2 separate regions of the Homo sapiens genome follow, and region 2 is linked to region 1. A link means that fine-mapping ties the variant in region 1 to the expression of a gene that starts in the linked region. Tissue or cell type: whole blood. Region 1 holds a variant in brackets; the other region holds the start of a gene. All regions are shown on one strand. Distances are between the middles of the regions.

Region 1 (5,144 bases):
CTCACTGCAAGCTCTGTCTCCTGGGTTCAGGTGATTCTCTTGCCTCAGCCTTCCTGGTAGCTGGGATTACAGGCGCCCGCCTCTGCACCCAGCTAATATTTTGTATTTTAAGTAGAGACGGGGTTTCACCATGTTGGTCAGGCTGGTCTCGAACTCCTGACCTCCCAACTCTAGAATTCTATACTTCTATGCTTAATAAATATTTGTGGCTGAATTTACTGGAGGTGGTTATAGGGGGACATGGAAGGAAAACTATAAAAATGCAATTTAGTATTTGTTGATAAACCATACAGCCTGACTGGCATTGAAATTGGTTGTCTGTATAACTTTTCCATTACCAACTGAACTGTGCTAGAAGAAATATTAAAGGAAGTTCTTCAGACAGGAGGGGTATGACACCAGATGGCGATTTAGATCTCCACAAAAAATGAGGAGGCCTGAAAATGGTAAAAATGAAGGTCAATTTAAAAGTTATAATGGGGGCGGTCGCGCACACCTGTAATACCAGCACTTTGGGAGGCCGATGCGGACGGATTGCCTGAAGTCAGGAGTTCCAGACCTGCCTGGCCAACATGGTGAAACCCCGTCTCTACTAATAATGCAAAAGCGAGGCTGGTGTGGTGTCGGGAGCCTGAAGTCGCAGCTACTCATGAGGCTGAGGCAGGAGAATCACTTGAACCTGGGAGGTGGAGGTTGCAGTGAGCCAAGATCGTGCCACTGCACTCCAGCCTGGGCGACAGAGTCAGACTTCGTCTCAAAAAAAAAAAAAGGTTATAATGGTGTTCTCATTAGAAGAACTACAGACCCCAGAGCTCTCAAATCGCCGGAAGGATTTCTGCGGTAGGCCTGTGCATGATGGACAGAGGACAGGTGGTAAAGAATCACGGACACCTAGTAGGACAACTAGGCATGGCTTTGTCCCGGTTTCAGAGCACCGACACAGCATTTAGTCACCATTTACCTTCTTGGGAGGTGGGTTAGGCAGCGGGCACACTAGTCCTGCTTTGTGGGAGCAGAAGTGAAGTCTCAGAGAAAACAGGTGACTTGCCCAAGAAGCCTTATTAATTACCAGCCAGGACAGCGTATTTTCTATTCCGTGTGTTTTGGGATAACTTAGTGCCGTCCCCTCCGATGAACCAGTGCCTTCGAAAGCCCTTGAGATTTGGGAAACAGGCGGCACAGATCTTGGAGGTTACCTTGTTCTTAATCAGTCCTCAGGCAGTCGCCTCTAACGCGAGCGAACACCGGCTTCCCGAGGCCGTCGCTCGGCAGAGGAGGGGCCAGGCGCCCGATCCCAGATCCCCTTTCCCCGCCCCGCCGCGCCCCGCCTGCTCTGGCACAGCCGCACTCCCGCAAATCCCTCCCGCGGAACCCCCACTCCTGCCTGCGCGGGCGCTGGAAGGCGGGCAGGGGGCGGGGCGCCGCGGCGCGTCCGTTGCTAAGGCCGCGCAGCCCTAGTGACCGAACGCCCTGCGGCGGCCGCGCAGGCGCTGTGGTGGGCTCCGGTGCACTGTGGGATGGAAACCGGAGCGGCGCGTCCTGGCAGGACCGGGCGGCGGCGGCGGCGGGGCCGGCGGCGGCCAGGGACCCGGGCTTAGGCTCGGCCAGGCCGGCTGAGGGGCGCGGGCGGCCAGCGGGCGGCGGACGCCGTCATGAACGCGGCGGTGGTGAGGCGGACGCAGGAGGCGCTGGGGAAAGTGATTCGGAGGCCGCCGCTGACCGAGAAGCTGCTGAGCAAGCCCCCGTTCCGCTACCTGCACGACATCATCACGGAGGTGGGCGCCGGGGACCGGGCCCGGCCAGGTGCGGGTCGGGATTCCGGTGGGCGCCGAGGTCAGGGCCCGGGCCGGGTGGCGCCGGGTGCGAGCCGGGCTCGGGCTCAGGTGCGGGTCGGGGGCCGGGGCTGGGCCGGAGTCGGGGCCCGGGCCGGGTGTGAACCGGGTGTGGGCCGGGCTCGGGGTGCAGGTCGGGGACCTGTTCAGGGCCGGGTGTGGGCCGGGCACAGGGTGCGGGTCGGGGGCCGGGGTCAGTTCCGGGGTCGGGGCGAGAGTTCTGTGCGGCCCCTGCCTGGGAGCCCGGCCTGTAGGCCCAATTCCGCGGCGCCCTCCGTGAGGAGGTCCTGCCCCTCCCCCGGCTCCGGGCCGCCGCTTACAAGGAGGCTCCGGGCCCTCAGGAGCATTCTTACTTCTTCCCTGCCTGCCCTTGTATTTCCTTAGAGTGCATCTTCCATTATTGCTGGCAGAGCTGCTTCTGTGACTCCTGCCTCGTCTAACCTTGCAGAACCCCTCTCGCTTGCCCTGAAGTATGTAGCACGTGGAAGGCACTCCCTAAATCCTGGGAGAATGGAAATAATATTTTTTATACAACCCTTCTGCCCCAAAGTTTCCCTCCATACCACATTTTGGGTGCTTAATAAATG[C/T]CTGCGGGTGGATTTAGTGGAGGCGGCTGTAGGGGGACTTGGCAGGAAAGACTGTAACAGAGCTGCACAGCCTGCCCTACGTTGAGATTGGTGGTCTCTGTAGCTTTTTCCACTTGCGGATGGTGTGCTCCTCCGTGACGGAGACCCTGGCTTGCTTATTAGCATGGCTCTGGTGATCTGCACTGGGTAAGGTACATAGAAATTGCACAACAAACATCCCCTGTTGAGTGGGACCTGTCAAGGCTCGTGGTAACTCCCTGGTAACTCTCAGGAGCGTCACTGCAGCGGGCGCAGCACCCATTTCCATGGTGGACCCAAGGGCACGTGGGAACTCAGAGGTGTGTTTTGGGATTTAGGATTCAGGTTGGACTTGCAGACTTCCAGGGCCTCATGACCTCACCTGGTGATGGTCCTCAAGCTCTGTTTCTCACTCTTTTCAACAGGTTGGGTGCCTTATTCTTGCACAGACTTTGCTTTACTGGTTCTGCCCTCCTACCTTAGCTTATAACGTGTGGTCTCCTGGAGCGTGTGCCTCTGTGTTAAAACAGTGCCTAAAAATGCTCTCGAATCCACCCACATCCCAGGGCCTCGCCAGCCCTGGTCATGTCCTCCCAGCTGGTGCAGCACTTACAGCCTGTCCTGGACAGTGTGTGGGGAGAGGACCTGCTGTGTGGATAGCCCGGTGGGAGGGGGACAATGTGCCGCATCACCACCGTCCCGTGAAGTAGGCGGGTACCCGTCCTCTGACCCAGAGGGAACAAGAGCCAGTGTGAGCCCAGCCCACTCTAGCTGTGGCTGCCAAAACCTTTATTCTCCCAGGCCTGTCTGTCCCACTGAAATGCAGAGCCCCAGGAGGGAGGTGCAGGGAGTGTGCCTTATCCTTGTGGGGCAGTGATGGCGCTCAGCTCACGGTGGCTGTCCAGTCACTACCGCATAGTTGGTCAGAGGAATCCTAATGGGAGAGGAGGAGGAACATGGGCTGGGTGCTGTGGCTCACGCCTGTAATCCCAGCACTCTGGGAGGCCAAGGCGGGCAGATCACTTGAGCCCAGATGTTCAAGACCAGCCTGGCCAACATGGTTAAAACTCCATCTCTACTGAAAATACAAAAATTAGCTGAGTGTGGTGGTGCACCTGTAATCCCAGCTACTCAGGAGGCTGAGTAGGGAAGATTGCTTGAGCCGGGAAGGTTGAGGATGCAGTGAGCTGTGATTGTAACACTGCACTCTAGCCTGGGTGACAGAGTAAGACCCTGTCTCAAAAAAAAAAAAAAAAAAAAAAAAAAAGAATTGCCTTCTTGGCCAGGTAGATAGGGTGTGTGGAACGAGTTGCATGTTCCCAATTAGGAACGACTGGTCTGCTCTTCTCCCATAGACTTCCTCATCTAATGCCAAAGTTGATTTCTCTCCCTGTGTAAAGATAAATAAATTATGACCTACTTGATAAAGTTGTTAGAATGACTGACATATTGGAAAGGATTTTCAGATAATAGGTGGAGAGCCTCTTATGAAAATGCTTTACTGTACTGAATATTATACACACATTGCTATATTAGTATTTTAGCTATAGCTACACTAACCACCCCGTTTCATTAAGCTAAGTGTGGATACTGTGACGTTAATGTCTCTTGTCACTTACAGTTATTGTTCACAATTTTTTTTTTTTTTTTAGAGGGATTCTTGCTCTGTCGCCCAGGCTGGAGTGCAGTGACACAGTCTCCACTCACTGCAACTTACGCCTCCCAGGTTCAAGCAATTCTCCTGTTTCAGCCTTCTGAGTAGCTGGGACTGCAGGCACATGCCACCATGTCCAGCTAATTTTTCTATTTTTAGTAGAGATGGGGTTTCGCCATGTTGTCCGGCCTGATCTCGAACTCCTGACCTCAGGTGATCCGCCTGCCTCGGCCTCCCAAAGTGCCGAGATTACAGGTGTGAGCTACTGTACCCAGCCTATTGCTCACAATTTTAACTGCCAGCATCCTGGGAAAACCTCAACAGGGACAAAATGAAAATGTTCCAGGAATGTTAAATGCAGGATGCTCTTAATATTCTACCTGTCATCTCAAGAAAAACAGTAGCATAGCTCTTACATAGTGTGGTGTGGAATGAAAACTCCTAGATTCATTAATACCTAACTTGATGCAAATTAAGGAGTTGTGGCTTGATTCCAGAGGAGGCTCTCATTAGGGTGGGACTGTCTTGTTTTTAAAACATGTCTTCCCGTAATAAATATGCTTTATTAGCTGACCTAGGATATGTGGCTATGAGCATACCTGTCCTTACCACATACCATGCAGCCTGCTGGTAAGGGTCCCAGCTATTCAAAATGCTTGTTGCTACAAATTGTATTGATTTTACAGTAACCTACCACATTTCAAAAAACTGCAGTCTGAGACAACCCAGGACCCTGGCTGGGTGTGGTGGTTGAGAGGAACAGGAAAAATAATTGCCCTAAAAGCTGGTTTTAGGGCTAATTAGGAGGTACAGGTTACCTGAGGGAAGGGATGATTAGGGAGAGAACCAAAGCAGTGAGGTGTGGAGCCTGCCACCATCTTAAGAAGTGAGTAGTGACACGTGGTGAGGAGAAAGACCCTTGCAGAACTTCTAGTCTTAGCAAACTAGGTTGAGAAATTCCTTTTCTTTTCTTTCTTTTTTTTTGAGGCAGAGTCTCACTGCGTTGCCCAGGCTGGAGTCCTGTGGCATGATTCTGACTCACTCCAACCTCCA
Region 2 (5,144 bases), 90 kb before region 1:
CGTGAGGACCAGGCCTACTATTCTTTGAGAATCTGCAGTGTTGGGCTTTTGAAAAGACTGAAGCTCAGGGCGTAACCTTCAAGGTGGGGGTTTTCTTAATGACCACTGCCATTCTCCAGGTGACAGCCAAGAACCTGAACTACGAATGCAGGAGCCGGACAGGGGGAAAGGGACGTCTAAGACTCATCCTCTTGTTCGTTCAACCTGTTGAAGTGGCAGGATTGCCAGTTCCTGGACGCTACCTGCAGGGCTCCAGTGTCCCCTGGAACCTGGGAGGTCAAGGTTGCCCAGGCAGGGCTCCAGGGAGGTGTCTCCATGGACCGTCTGGTTTCCAGCCTGAAGGATTGATGCCCTTGTTGCTCTGAAGGATCCAGAACATGAAGGGAGGAGCAGGTTTTGTTGGAAAGCTGAGTTCACATTTGAACTTGTTGCAGAACCTGTGGGATTCCTGAGAGGCGACAGCCAGGGGCATTTGGATAAACTCTATGAGAGCTCCAGAGAGGGCTGGGCTGGAAATAGATTTTGCAGCTGGTAGCACAGCAGGTGAAGCCATGGAGATCATACAGATTACAGCCTAGAAGCTAGAGAAGAGGGCCTAGCAAAGAAATGTGGGGCACAATATTTAAGAAGACAATATTCGCCGGGCACGGTGGCTCATGCTTATAACCCCAGCACTTTGGGAGTGAGGCAGGTGGATTGCTGGACCAGCCTGGGCAACACTACAAACATCTCTCTCTACAAAAAAAATACAAAAATCAGCCAGGCATGGTGATGTGCGCCTATAGTCCCAGCTACTTAGGAGGCTGAGGTGGGAGGATCACTTGAGTCTGGGAGGTCGAGGTTGCAGTGAGCCATGATCGTACCACTGCACTCCAGCCTCCAGCCTGAGACAGAGTGAGAACCTGTCTCAAAAAAAAAAAAAAAAAAGACAACATTTAATATCCAGTTGTGAAGAGCCACTGCCAGAACCTGAGAAGGAATGGTGGAACAAGAAGAGCAAGAAGACTAGACAGAGAACAATTTTTTGAGATAAGGTCTCACTCCCATTGTCCAGGCCAGAGCACACTGGCGTGATCTCAATTCACCGCAGCCTTGACTTCCCGGGCTCCAGTGATACTCCCACCTCAGCCTCTCGAGTGGCTGGGACTACAGGTGCGGGCCACCATGTCTGGCTAATTTTTTGCATTTTTGGTAGAGATGGAGTCTTGCTATGTTGCCCAGGCTGGTCTTGAACTCCTGGGCTCAAGCGATCTGCCTAACTCAGCCTCCCAAAGTGCCGGGATTACAGGTGTGAGCCACCGTGCTCTGGCAAGAACAATGTTTTAAGAAGCATGAGGATGTTGAGTATCAAATGCCGCAAAGTTCGGGTGAGAAAACTGAAGAGTCTACTCGGCAATCAGGAGTTCATTGGAGACTCTGGCAGAAGTTTTCTATAGTAGAATGGCAGGAAATGTAGCCATACTGAAATTTTGTTAGGGACAAACAGGTGATGAGGAAATGAAGAAAATGAGAATGAAGACTGTTTTTAAGAAACTGGAGTGTGAAGAAAACAGTAGGACAATAAGTAAGAAACCTCAACGGGGTGTGAGGACAAGTTCCCCAGGATAAAGTGGATAAGATGGAGGTTGGCACTTAAGATTTGGAGCAGGTTCAACAGAGAGGAATGGCAAGGTTTGAGGGATGGTTCCTGACGTCTAAGGGCGCATTTAATATTCTTTCAAGGTTAAGGTGGGGCAAGATCTGGAGGAGAGAGGATAGTACCCCAAGTGTCATCATCCATTGACAGGTCAATAGGTAGTACAGCGACATGGGAACAGAGCAGGTGTGCACAGAAAGCATGGTTTCCCAGGGAGGGCAGTATTTTTCCATGAGGATGCAAGAGTGAAAAGCCTGGGAGATTCCACGAAGAGCTGAGGGGCTTCTGAGCCACAGCTTAAACCTTAACCCTCCTCCTCTCAGATACATTCAAATCCAAGTACTGATAATAATCTAGTAAGACCTGGGCTTCCCTGGCTACCGTCTATCAAGGAATGCCAGTGTCTGCCTCTGGGCAGTGCGCGTTGGATTTGGGTTCTCTGCGGGGTCTTGCTGATCTTAAAGACAATGCAGGGGCCTTGTGAGTCTCACCTCTGTACCCCCAGCACATAACAGGTGCTCAACACATTCGCGAGGGGAGCGCTGAGCAAAGCGGAGGCCCGGGTTCCCTCCTGGAGAAACCTGCTTCCCCTCCAAGGCCTCAAGCGTCCGCTCCTTCACTGACCTCAATCGTTGATTTCGGCTGCACTTCCTATCCCTGGGGGAGCTTTCAACGCTCCGCCGTCCAGGCCGCCGGGCCCCGCAGCCCGCGCCCCGCTCTCTAGGGCTGGGCCCCCAGGGGCTGGACGACCTCTCTCGCCTTCGCTTTCTCAAGCGTAAATCGGGCGGCGGGGGCTGCAGAGCCTTCATCTCTTCCTCCGTCCCGGGATGTCGGAGAGACGGCAGCCCAGCCTCCGCCACCGCAAAGCTGCTTAACGGGCAGCGCGAGTCCCTCGGGCACCGTTGGAGGCCGTTGCTCACCGTTGGGCAAGTGCTTTAAGAAGCACGAGGATGTCGAGTGTCAAATGCGGCAAAGGGCTCAGAGCTCGCCGCCAAGGGGCGTGGCCTCCGGGCCGCGGCGGCCTCTGGGAGTTGTAGTCCCGCCTCAACTTGTGGTGGCCTCTTTAAAAAAACAAAAAACAAACAAACAAAAAAACACTGGCGCTTGGGTCCGTCGCTGCCTCGGTGTCCCTGTCGGGCTTCCCAGCAGCGGCCTAGTGGAAAAGTAAAAGATGTCTGAATATATTCGGGTAACCGAAGATGAGAACGATGAGCCCATTGAAATACCATCGGAAGACGATGGGACGGTGCTGCTGTCCACGGTTACAGCCCAGTTTCCAGGGGCGTGTGGGCTTCGCTGCAGGAATCCGGTGTCTCAATGTATGAGAGGTGTCCGGCTGGTAGAAGGAATTCTGCATGCCCCCGATGCTGGCTGGAGAAATCCGGTGTATGTTGTCAACTATCCGAAAGATAACAAAAGAAAAATGGGTGAGACAGAAGCTTCATCAGCAGTGAAAGTGAAAAGACCAGTCCGATTTAATAGTGTTGGGTCTCCCATGGAAAACAACTGAACAGGACCTGAAAGAGTACTGTAGTACCTTTGGAGACGTTCTTATGGTGCGGCAAAGCCAAGATGAGCCTTTGAGAAGCAGAAAAGTGTTTGTGGGGCGCCGTACGGAGGACATGACTGAGGATGAGCTGTGGGAGTTCTTCTCTCAGTATGGGGATGTGATGGATGTCTTCGTCCCCAAGCCGTTCAGGGCCTTTGCCTTTGTTCCATTTGCAGATGATCAGATTGCGCGGTCTCTTTGTGGAGAGGACTCGATGAAAGGAATCAGCGTTCACATATCCAATGCCGAACCCAAGCGCAATAGCAATAGACAGCAAGAAGTGGAAGATTTGGTGGTAATCCAGGTGGCTTTGGGAATCAGGGTGGATTTGGTAAGAGTAGAGGGGGTGGAGCTGGTTTGGGAAACAATCAAGGTAGTAATATGGGTGGTGGGATAAACTTTGGTGCGTTCAGCATTAATCCAGCCATGATGGCTGCCCCCCAGGCAGTGCTGCAGAGCAGTTGGTGTACGATGGGTGTGTTAGCCAGCCAGCGAAGCAGCCAGGCCCATCGGATGATAACCAAAGCCAAGGCAACATGCAGAGGGAGCCAAACCAGGCCTTCGGTTCTGGAAATAACTCTTGTAGTGGTTCTAATTTTGGTGCAACAATTGGTTGGGGATCAGCATCCAATGCAGGGTCGGGCAGTGGTTTTAATGGCGGCTTTGGCTCAAGCATGGATTCTAAGTCTTCTGGCTGGGAACGTAGACAGTGGGGTTGTGGTTGGTTGGTATAGAATGGTTGGAATTCAAATTTTTCTAAACTCATGGTAAGTATATTGTAAAATACATATGTACTAAGAATTTTCAAAATTGGTTTCTTCAGTGTGGAGTATATTCAGTAGTATTTTTGACATTTTTCTTTAGAAAAAGGAACAGCTAAAGGAATTTTATAAGTTTTGTTACATGAAAGGTTGAAATATTGAGTGGTTGAAAGTGAACTGCTGTTTGCCTGATTGGTAAACCAACACACTACAATTGATATCAGAAGGTTTCTCCTGTAATATTTTATCCCTGGACTTGTCAAGTGAGTTCTTTGCATGTTCAAAATGGAAGCCATGAATTAGAACTACATTCTTTATTCCTTGTTTTAATTTGAACCCCACCATATGGATTTTTTTCCTTAAGAAAATCTCCTTTTAGAAGATCATGGTGTCACAGTTTGGTTCTTTTGTTTTGTTTTTTAACACTTGTCTCCCCTCAAACACAAAAGTACAATATGAAGCCTTCATTTAATCTCTGCAGTTCATCTCATTTCAAATGTTTATGGAAGAAGCACTTGGTTGAAAGTAGTGCTGTAAATATTCTGCCATAGGAACACTTCTGTCTACATGCCTTCTCATTCAAGAATTCGTCATCACGCATCACAGGCCGCGTCTTTGACGGTGGGTGTCCCATTTTTATCTGCTACTCTTTATTTCATAGAGTCGTATCAACGCTGTGAACGCAAGGCTGTGATATGGAACTAGAAGGCTGTTTGAACTTTTGAAACCTTGTGTGGGATTGACGGTGGTGCTGAGGCATGAAAGGCTAGTATGAGTGAGAAAAGGAGAGAGCACGTGCAGAGACTTGGTGGTGCATAACGGATATTTTTTAACTTGGCGAGATGTGTTTCTCAATCCTGCGGCTTTGGTGACAGTGTGCAGACAGCAATGATAGCAAATAATGTACGAATGTTTTTTGCATTCAAAGGACATCCACATCTGTTGGAAGACTTTGAGTTTTTGTTCTTAGATAACCCACTTTATTTGAATGTGTTAAGTGAAATGATACTTGTACTCCCCCTACCCCTTTGTCAACTGCTGTGAATGCTGTATGGTGTGTGTTCTCTTCTGTTACTGATATGTAAGTGTGGCAATGTGAACTGAAGCTGATGGGCTGAGAACATGGACTGAGCTTGTGGTGTGCTTTGCAGGAGGACTTGGAAGCAGAGTTCAGCAGTGAACTCTGGTGTCTCAAAGA

Evidence for each region. PIP is the estimated chance that this variant, and not a neighbour inherited with it, causes the effect.
Region 2: LINC02610 starts here. The variant in region 1 is fine-mapped to the expression of LINC02610 in whole blood (TOPMed, PIP above 0.99).

Annotation. Positions count from the first base shown.
Region 1 is chr2:238,319,011-238,324,154 of GRCh38, forward strand. TRAF3IP1 (TRAF3 interacting protein 1) reads left to right here and starts at 1,508. Exons shown (of 17, transcript NM_015650.4): 1 at 1,508-1,775. The coding sequence starts at 1,653. RefSeq lists silencers at 1,162-1,641, 1,772-2,001. The variant C/T (reference allele first, on the strand shown) is at 2,420.
Region 2 is chr2:238,229,074-238,234,217 of GRCh38, forward strand. LINC02610 (long intergenic non-protein coding RNA 2610) reads right to left here and starts at 2,604. Exons shown (of 3, transcript NR_026926.1): 1 at 2,261-2,604. It also overlaps the pseudogene TARDBPP3.